Regions from separate parts of the Homo sapiens genome. Here regions 2 and 3 are each linked to region 1. Evidence: fine-mapped QTL for protein levels in blood plasma. A gene starts in region 1. Each other region holds a variant in brackets. All regions are shown on one strand. Distances are from middle to middle.

Region 1 (2,750 bases):
GTGGTGGCTAATGTGTTGGCCAGCTGCTACCTTAAGGATTTGGAAAAAACAAGATTGAAAGACTGGTGACACAGAGGTCAAGGTGGGGGAGGCATGTGAGAGAGTCTCTTGAAATGGGCACAGGGTGTGAAGATATTTGCGTCTCATGGAGTGCCCTCCAGAGAACAAATTGACCTGTCCCGTAGATGTCAGCCAGCCTCCTGCCAGCTTCCTTGGGGCTTGCTGAATGTACAATGAGTGCCATGGTGCTGGCATGGAGATGAAGCACAGGCTTAACTCTCCAGACTTCCTTCACCGAGGCTGATGTGGCTTACCAATGCTGAGTGAGCAAAATGCTGAGAGTGAAGGGCAGCACTGAGCCCCCTGTGGCACCATTCCCCGTAGTCCGTGTTAAATGGCCTCTCTTCACAGCATCAGTTCACAGGGTCCAGTAACACCATTGACTCATCTTCCTCAGCAGTTGGAAGAGGGAGGAGGAGAGTTAGTTTCAGCCTCTGGAGTTGGGGGTGAGTGAGGATACTGATGTATCACAAGCAACTAGTGGGCAAGGGGGAAAAGATGACTGAGTTCAAAAGCAATGCCTGGATTGGAAATAAAAGATGGAAAATTGCATTAATTCATAATCATGTGGTAATGCCCCATCGGACTCTGCATTCTTAATCTTTTACCTCTACTGACAGAGAGGCTTTGCTTTTCAGCTGCTGTGAACAAGCTGAAGAGGCCTTATCCTCTTATCTGCAAGAGTGGAAGTAATCACAGGGGGCCCTAAAGGCAAATGTTTACCTGTGTATTTTATCGTGAAAGTGCCAAGGGTCCAGACCTCACCTCTCTTGTCCCACTTTATCTCCAGTACCTAGAAGGGAGGCTGGCACATTGTAACCACTCAAACATCTGTGGATGACTGGAATAAATGGGAGGATGTAGGAATGAATGAACGAATGAATAATCCTTTAGGGAACAATAGAGAGCTGGGGGAGGGAGAAGCCATACCTGATCTTTTATTCTTCTCCAAAACCCTTGAAAAGACTATGAGAGGCCGCATAGAGTAGCCATTAAGACCTTGAACTCTTAATTTAGGATCTACAACTTCCTAGCTGAATGGCTTGGCCAAGTTATTTATTCTCTGTGTACAGTCTTCCTTCCTGTAAAACAAACACAGTAAATGCTTAGAGCAGCACCTGGGAAAAAGTCAAGTTCCACATAAGTGTTACTGTCATTATTTTTGTCATCTTGATGAGTGTGTAAGCCTGCAAGACAATCGGGAAATTCCCTAGGGAGGGTGAATCCAGATACTCAGCTTCCAAGGGCCATTCAAGAGGGAACAATCACCTTTTCTCTTTGCCTTTCATACTGCTTTAGACCCCTCACTGCTTCCTAACATAACTTTCACTGGCAAGAGACGGAGTCCTGGGTTTCAGTTCCAGTTGCCTGCGGTGGGCTGTGTGAGTTTGCCAAAGTCCCCTGCCCTCTCTGGGTCTCGGTTCCCTCGCCTGTCCACGTGAGGTTGGAGGAGCTGAACGCCGACGTCATTTTTAGCTAAGAGGGAGCAGGGTCCCCGAGTCGCCGGCCCAGGGTCTGCGCATCCGAGGCCGCGCGCCCTTTCCCCTCCCCCACGGCTCCTCCGGGCCCCGCACTCTGCGCCCCGGCTGCCGCCCAGCGCCCTACACCGCCCTCAGGGGGCCCTCGCGGGCTCCCCCCGGCCGGGATGCCAGTGCCCCGCGCCACGCGCGCCTGCTCCCGCGCCGCCTGCCCTGCAGCCTGCCCGCGGCGCCTTTATACCCAGCGGGCTCGGCGCTCACTAATGTTTAACTCGGGGCCGAAACTTGCCAGCGGCGAGTGACTCCACCGCCCGGAGCAGCGGTGCAGGACGCGCGTCTCCGCCGCCCGCGGTGACTTCTGCCTGCGCTCCTTCTCTGAACGCTCACTTCCGAGGAGACGCCGACGATGAAGGTGAGTGCCGCGCCACGTACGTCCCCGGGGCGAGCTGTGGGGACCTCTTCGCCAAACTCCCCAAATGGCCCAAAAGCTGGCGAAACCGGACCAGGGACTCCCCTTAGGCGGAAGCCCCAAGGCCACCCTCTGACAGGTGAAGGGACGTCCCAGAGCTCTCGCTTAGCTTTCGGACCCTGGCTTCTGCTAGGACCCTGGCGTCGAGCTTTGAATGTCCCGGAGAGCCACTCACAGAACGCACGCCCGAACCCGGGCAGGGGTAGAGAAACCAACGCTAATGTGCTCTGAAGGCACAAGTTCAAGGGCACCCGCCTTAGAGAACTCCAACTGGCGCACTCCAGACGCCACCCCCACCCCCAGCCCGCGGTCTCCCTCTTCTAACGCACTCCCACCTGCAAATCCTGCTGCCTCTGGAGCAGCCCCGACCCTCCTACGGAAACTGGGGCCACACGCTTCCCTCTAATTGGACTTGATCTGCTCGGCTTGCAGACACCGTGGAAGGTTCTTCTGGGACTGCTGGGTGCTGCTGCGCTTGTCACCATCATCACCGTGCCCGTGGTTCTGCTGAACAAAGGCAGTAAGTTTGAAACATTTGAAAAAGATAGGACAGTTGGAGCTCAGGTCAGGCTCCGTCTTACCACGCTAAGGGAAACGAGGGATTTTGCGTGGGGTTGGACCAGTGCCCCGAAGTGTAGCTGAGAAGGCTTCCCAGTTGTTGTTGCTGCTTGTAGAGCAGCAGCTGGATTCACTTCGCGGGGTCTTCAGTGTTTAGGCTGAAACTCTTGCGGCTTTCACGTCTT
Region 2 (2,764 bases), 460 kb after region 1:
GTATCAAATAGGGACATAATCCCAACTAATGAGTTTGTAAATCAGGGAGATGAAACATAAACTAAAGGATGAGTAATGGCAAACCCAAGTGAAAAAGCCCTTTCATTATGGAAACTTTTCAAAATTCAGAGCAGTATAAAGATGCAAATGACAGTCATTCATAATCCCACCAACCAGAGATGGTCACTGTTAACATTTCAGCATGTTTCATTATAGACTTCTTTTAACAATTCTGGGAGTGGGGAATGATATTCTTTTATATTTATTATTTCCATCACATTTAAAGCAATGGAATTATGTTGCATATAGGAAATGAAAGTCCTTACTAGAAAAATATGATACCCAAATAACCTCTTAGATTTGATCCTTTATTACTATACGAATATGTCTATCCTACTTCTCCCAGCCTGCATCAGGAATGAGAGAAACTTTCAAACCCTCTAATCAGGAATGGGACACAAGTTGTCTTTTCTTTCAAATTCTGTAAACCTAACTGAATTACCTGTTATTTTCTCTCTTCCAAAACCCAAACTAGGGCTCAGTTAGTGGAAAAAGCACATAGCCCTTTCTTAAGGTTACACATTGACACATGAAGTTCTTACTACTTCCAATTCTTCCTTTCCTCCATTCTGGAGAATCTTTTGATATGGACAGCCTGGCTCTTCATCTTTTCTCACAATGCTATCATTTGGAAACTGTGTCCAACTAGATTAAGGCTTCTGAAACTTAAAGCCAGATTGTCTGCTGCATCCATTCAGGATGGATACATCCTGAAATATGAAAAACCAATGACTAAATGAAGAAATACAAGGCACTTAAATAAATGTATGGGGAAACTTAATTAAGATTTTAAAAATATTATCTTAATTCAATATTAATAAAATAGTAAAAAACAAAATAACTGAAATTTGCTTTTATTTCTCTGAGAAAATTGATTTCCATATGTGTTTGAATTAAATGATACTTTTCAGAAACATAATCTCATACATCCAGGAAGATGCACAAAAACTTGTTTATTCATTTGATATATATTTACTGAATACCTCCTATGGGCTCAGTACTATGCAAGGCACTAGAAAGGCAAAGTCCCTGCCCCAGGGATCTGATAGTCTGGAAGGGAGACAAACAATCAGACATGTCCAAGACATATACCTTAAATATGACAGGTATGTGACAGAAATAGAAGGGGCACCTGTTCCAGACTAGGGTGGAGGTATAAAGATATAAAATGGATTATAGGGAAGAATAAAAGTATTCCAGAAAGGAAGAATAGCATGTTCAAGAACTATAAAAAGTTGTCTGTAACTGAAACACTGGATATATCAAAGGATGTGGCAGGAAAGAAGGATGAACATGAGGGCAAGGACCAGATTACAAAATTCCGTATTTGCCATACTCA[G/T]GAGATTGGTTTTATTTTATAGGGGATATTAGAGAAGACTTCCCAATGGACATCATATCTGAGATAAACTTTAAAACATACAGAAGAGTTTATCAGAATAACCTGAGGTGTTTTAGAATAACCTTAGATGCTTCTGAAAATTTTTTATTCCTAGGTCCCATATCCAAAGATCCTAACCTAGTAAATTGGGGTGAGGATAAGGATTCTGTATTTTTCACAAGATATTCTGATAGAAGTGCCTATGCATCACCTATTCCAAATTTGATATACATATTTTCCATTCTCTAACTACAACTCTTCCTCAAAAGAAAAACACACACACTTGGCTTAAATATTTACAATTATTTAGAAGAAAACATGTAACACTATATTAGGATTATTAGGACAATGTGCCATCCACTGTTTAAAAATGAAACCTACCATTTACTTAGTGTTTATTACATGTCAGGTATGTGCCAAATCTTTTATATAATTATTTAATTTACCACTCATATCAACCCTGAGAAGTATGCATTTTACCTCCATTTATATATGAAGAAACTGAAGCTGAGTGAAGTTAAATAACTTGCTGAACTTCACACAGCTATAAGCAGCAGAAATCCCAACCCAGGCTATCTGCCTCCAACGCACTTACTTTTTGCATCATGCTATAACTGATCTCTAACTTGTAAAGGTTGCCAGTGAAATGTTTTCTCCAATTCTAATTACCACAAAGAAGAATAAGAACACCAGATCCAAACTCAGTGTTGGTACTATGGCCAGACATTTTTAAAAGAATGAAACTTGTCAAGCCAGAAATAAAGTATTTCTATCAACAATGATTCATGTAAATGCTGCCTCATGTTTAGGCTTCTTCCAGCTCATTCAGAAAACACTGAGGAAGATGCATAGGATCCCATTTCTTAACAGAAAATAATTGGGCTGATAACTACTGTGTCAGGGTGAGAAATCCTACGGTGGTAATCTCCTGAGCCAGGTGGTTTTAGTCTTTCTTTGGCCAAATAAGACATAACACTGCTTTCTCCAAGTCTGCCACTGTCTCTCCTTCAGAGAAGACAATTCACAAAATTCCAATAAACTCTGACTTAGTGTAAAAGATAGTACTTGGAAGTGGAAAAAGACAAACATTTATTTAATAGTTCATATGATAACTACTGTAATAAATGTATAAAATGGATTATAGGGAAGAATAGAAGTATTCCGGAAAGGAAGAATAGCTTGCTCAAGAACTATAAAAAGTTGTCTATAACTGAAACACTGGATATATCAAAGGATGTGGCAGGAATGAAGGATGAACATGAGGGCAAGGACCAGATTACAAAATTCCGTATTTGCCATACTCAGGAGATTGGCTTTATTTTATAG
Region 3 (2,738 bases), 82 kb after region 1:
CTAACACACATGATTTGCTCTGTGCTCAGTTCAAATGGTGCCCAATGCACAGGAGTGGGACAGTTACTTGATACTGAGAAAAACTGGCTATCTTTTGGGTCAGTGTTTTATAAGAGGTTGAAGTTTATTTTTCTACTATTCAAAGAAAAGACAAATGCTACTTTAATTAAGCTTTTTTTAAAGTTAACTTATGTCTCCATAATTTATGTTTGCCCGGTAATGACTTCCCAATTATTTAACAAGGTATGAATCAATAAATTTTTGTCCCAGATCATTAATTCCTTTTACATAAATGTCAAATACACAGATTTCTTAAAATACCAGTTTAAAATCTAAGTGTTTACAAATAATACATCTGATTTTTGACTTCACTTCTATTAAACATATATATGTAATATTGAAATAGAGTTTTTCCAGTTTCTAGGTGCTATATATTAGGCAATATTGCTTTAAAAAAAATCATTTAGTTTAATACAGTTTATCTTACTAGAGTACAGAGAAATTTAACACTTGATAACAGTTTAATTAAAACAAGTGGGCTTAATGGGATAATCATTCCTTCCCATGCATGCTGTGTAAGCGCCCTTTGAGTCAAATTTGGAAATGGATTGGGTGTTTTAATTAAAATGTACGTATCTTTAAAGCACTATTCAATAAAGCCAAATTCACAGTGAGTTCTCTCAGCACCTGCAAAAGAGGATCAGAGACTTCTGCAGGACAGAACAACGTGCCCTGGAAAAGCTCTGGGGGAAAATTAGACCCCCTCTTTGACCCCGTTTCAGTTTATAAACTGCCTCAGGAATTAAAACACTCTGTTTTATACCATGTATGCTCGTGAGAGCTCATTTGAATTTACGTATTTTTTTTTTTAAGAAGAGTACTGACTTCCTAATTCTAACTTCTTTTCTTTCTCTCTCTAGTGGTATACTGATGAAGACCATGGAATAGCTAGCAGCACAGCACACCAACATATATATACCCACATGAGCCACTTCATAAAACAAT[G/C]TTTCTCTTTACCTTAGCACCTCAAAATACCATGCCATTTAAAGCTTATTAAAACTCATTTTTGTTTTCATTATCTCAAAACTGCACTGTCAAGATGATGATGATCTTTAAAATACACACTCAAATCAAGAAACTTAAGGTTACCTTTGTTCCCAAATTTCATACCTATCATCTTAAGTAGGGACTTCTGTCTTCACAACAGATTATTACCTTACAGAAGTTTGAATTATCCGGTCGGGTTTTATTGTTTAAAATCATTTCTGCATCAGCTGCTGAAACAACAAATAGGAATTGTTTTTATGGAGGCTTTGCATAGATTCCCTGAGCAGGATTTTAATCTTTTTCTAACTGGACTGGTTCAAATGTTGTTCTCTTCTTTAAAGGGATGGCAAGATGTGGGCAGTGATGTCACTAGGGCAGGGACAGGATAAGAGGGATTAGGGAGAGAAGATAGCAGGGCATGGCTGGGAACCCAAGTCCAAGCATACCAACACGAGCAGGCTACTGTCAGCTCCCCTCGGAGAAGAGCTGTTCACAGCCAGACTGGCACAGTTTTCTGAGAAAGACTATTCAAACAGTCTCAGGAAATCAAATATGCAAAGCACTGACTTCTAAGTAAAACCACAGCAGTTGAAAAGACTCCAAAGAAATGTAAGGGAAACTGCCAGCAACGCAGGCCCCCAGGTGCCAGTTATGGCTATAGGTGCTACAAAAACACAGCAAGGGTGATGGGAAAGCATTGTAAATGTGCTTTTAAAAAAAAATACTGATGTTCCTAGTGAAAGAGGCAGCTTGAAACTGAGATGTGAACACATCAGCTTGCCCTGTTAAAAGATGAAAATATTTGTATCACAAATCTTAACTTGAAGGAGTCCTTGCATCAATTTTTCTTATTTCATTTCTTTGAGTGTCTTAATTAAAAGAATATTTTAACTTCCTTGGACTCATTTTAAAAAATGGAACATAAAATACAATGTTATGTATTATTATTCCCATTCTACATACTATGGAATTTCTCCCAGTCATTTAATAAATGTGCCTTCATTTTTTCAGAAGTAATGACTTGTGTCTTGAATAAGACCTAAACCGCACTGGCATATGGACACATTTATCTAGAAAGGCTCTTGTTTATTTTGTTAGTAATCCCAGACTACCTTGTAAACATGGAAAGAGTTCAGCTTTGGTAAAAAAATTAGATATATAAAAATGTGTTAAGCTAAACAGTTCATAGGTTTTTGCCTAATAATGTGCAATTTCTCTTATCATAAATACATACAGCTTTTGAGAAATCAACTTAAACTAATTTTAGTTACTTATATCATACACAATTTATAATTTTATTCCAGGGAACTATGATGAGGCTTATATAAGAACGAATAAGATCAGAAATATCATTCTGGCAGTTCTTATGGCTCAGTAGAAGTAGTCAATTATTTAAGTGGTTGACTATTTGTGGTTGACATTACTATAAAAATGAAAGTGGCCAGGCATGGTGGCTCACGCCTGTAATCTCAGCCCTTTGGGAGGCTGAGGCAGGCAGATCACGAGGTCAGGAGATCGAGATCATCCTGGCTAACACAGTGAAACCCCATCTCTACTAAAAATACAAAAAATTAGCTAGGCATCGTGGCGGGCGCCTGTAGTCCCACCTACTGGGGACACTGAGGCAGGAGAATGGTGTGAACCCGGGAGGCGGAAGTTGCAGTGAGCCGAGATCACACCACTGTACTCCA

Alleles and levels. Alleles are on the strand shown, and positions count from the first base shown. The strength of an association depends on the size of the effect and on how common the allele is.
As copies of G replace T in region 2, the plasma level of the protein whose gene starts at base 1,711 in region 1 goes up (weak association).
In carriers of allele C in region 3, the plasma level of the protein whose gene starts at base 1,711 in region 1 tends to be lower than with G alone (moderate association).

What was found. PIP is the posterior inclusion probability: the model's chance that the variant is causal. Protein levels are from antibody-based Olink assays in UK Biobank. Linkage for the fine-mapping came from a reference panel and not from the study's own genotypes, which makes the PIPs less certain.
Region 2: its variant is fine-mapped to the plasma level of the DPP4 protein (UK Biobank, PIP 0.99).
Region 3: its variant is fine-mapped to the plasma level of the DPP4 protein (UK Biobank, PIP above 0.99). The variant lies in the coding sequence of DPP4. If it changes the protein, the assay may bind it differently, which can mimic a change of level.

Annotation. Positions count from the first base shown.
Region 1 is chr2:162,073,176-162,075,925 of GRCh38, reverse strand. It overlaps DPP4 (dipeptidyl peptidase 4), which reads left to right and starts at 1,711. Exons shown (of 26, transcript NM_001935.4): 1 at 1,711-1,950; 2 at 2,440-2,527. The coding sequence starts at 1,945. It overlaps DPP4-DT (DPP4 divergent transcript), which reads right to left and starts at 1,069. Exons shown (of 3, transcript NR_147697.1): 1 at 991-1,069; 2 at 315-448. RefSeq lists a promoter at 1-1,306, enhancers at 861-1,558, 1,993-2,192 and a silencer at 1,583-1,842.
Region 2 is chr2:161,616,488-161,619,251 of GRCh38, reverse strand. No RefSeq gene overlaps it. Among named protein-coding and RNA genes, the nearest start is that of SLC4A10, 6.5 kb to the left of the region's middle. The variant G/T (reference allele first, on the strand shown) is at 1,400.
Region 3 is chr2:161,991,567-161,994,304 of GRCh38, reverse strand. DPP4 (dipeptidyl peptidase 4) reads left to right here. Exons shown (of 26, transcript NM_001935.4): 26 at 921-2,060. The coding sequence ends at 1,022. Among named protein-coding and RNA genes, the nearest start is that of DPP4, 81 kb to the left of the region's middle. The variant G/C (reference allele first, on the strand shown) is at 1,006.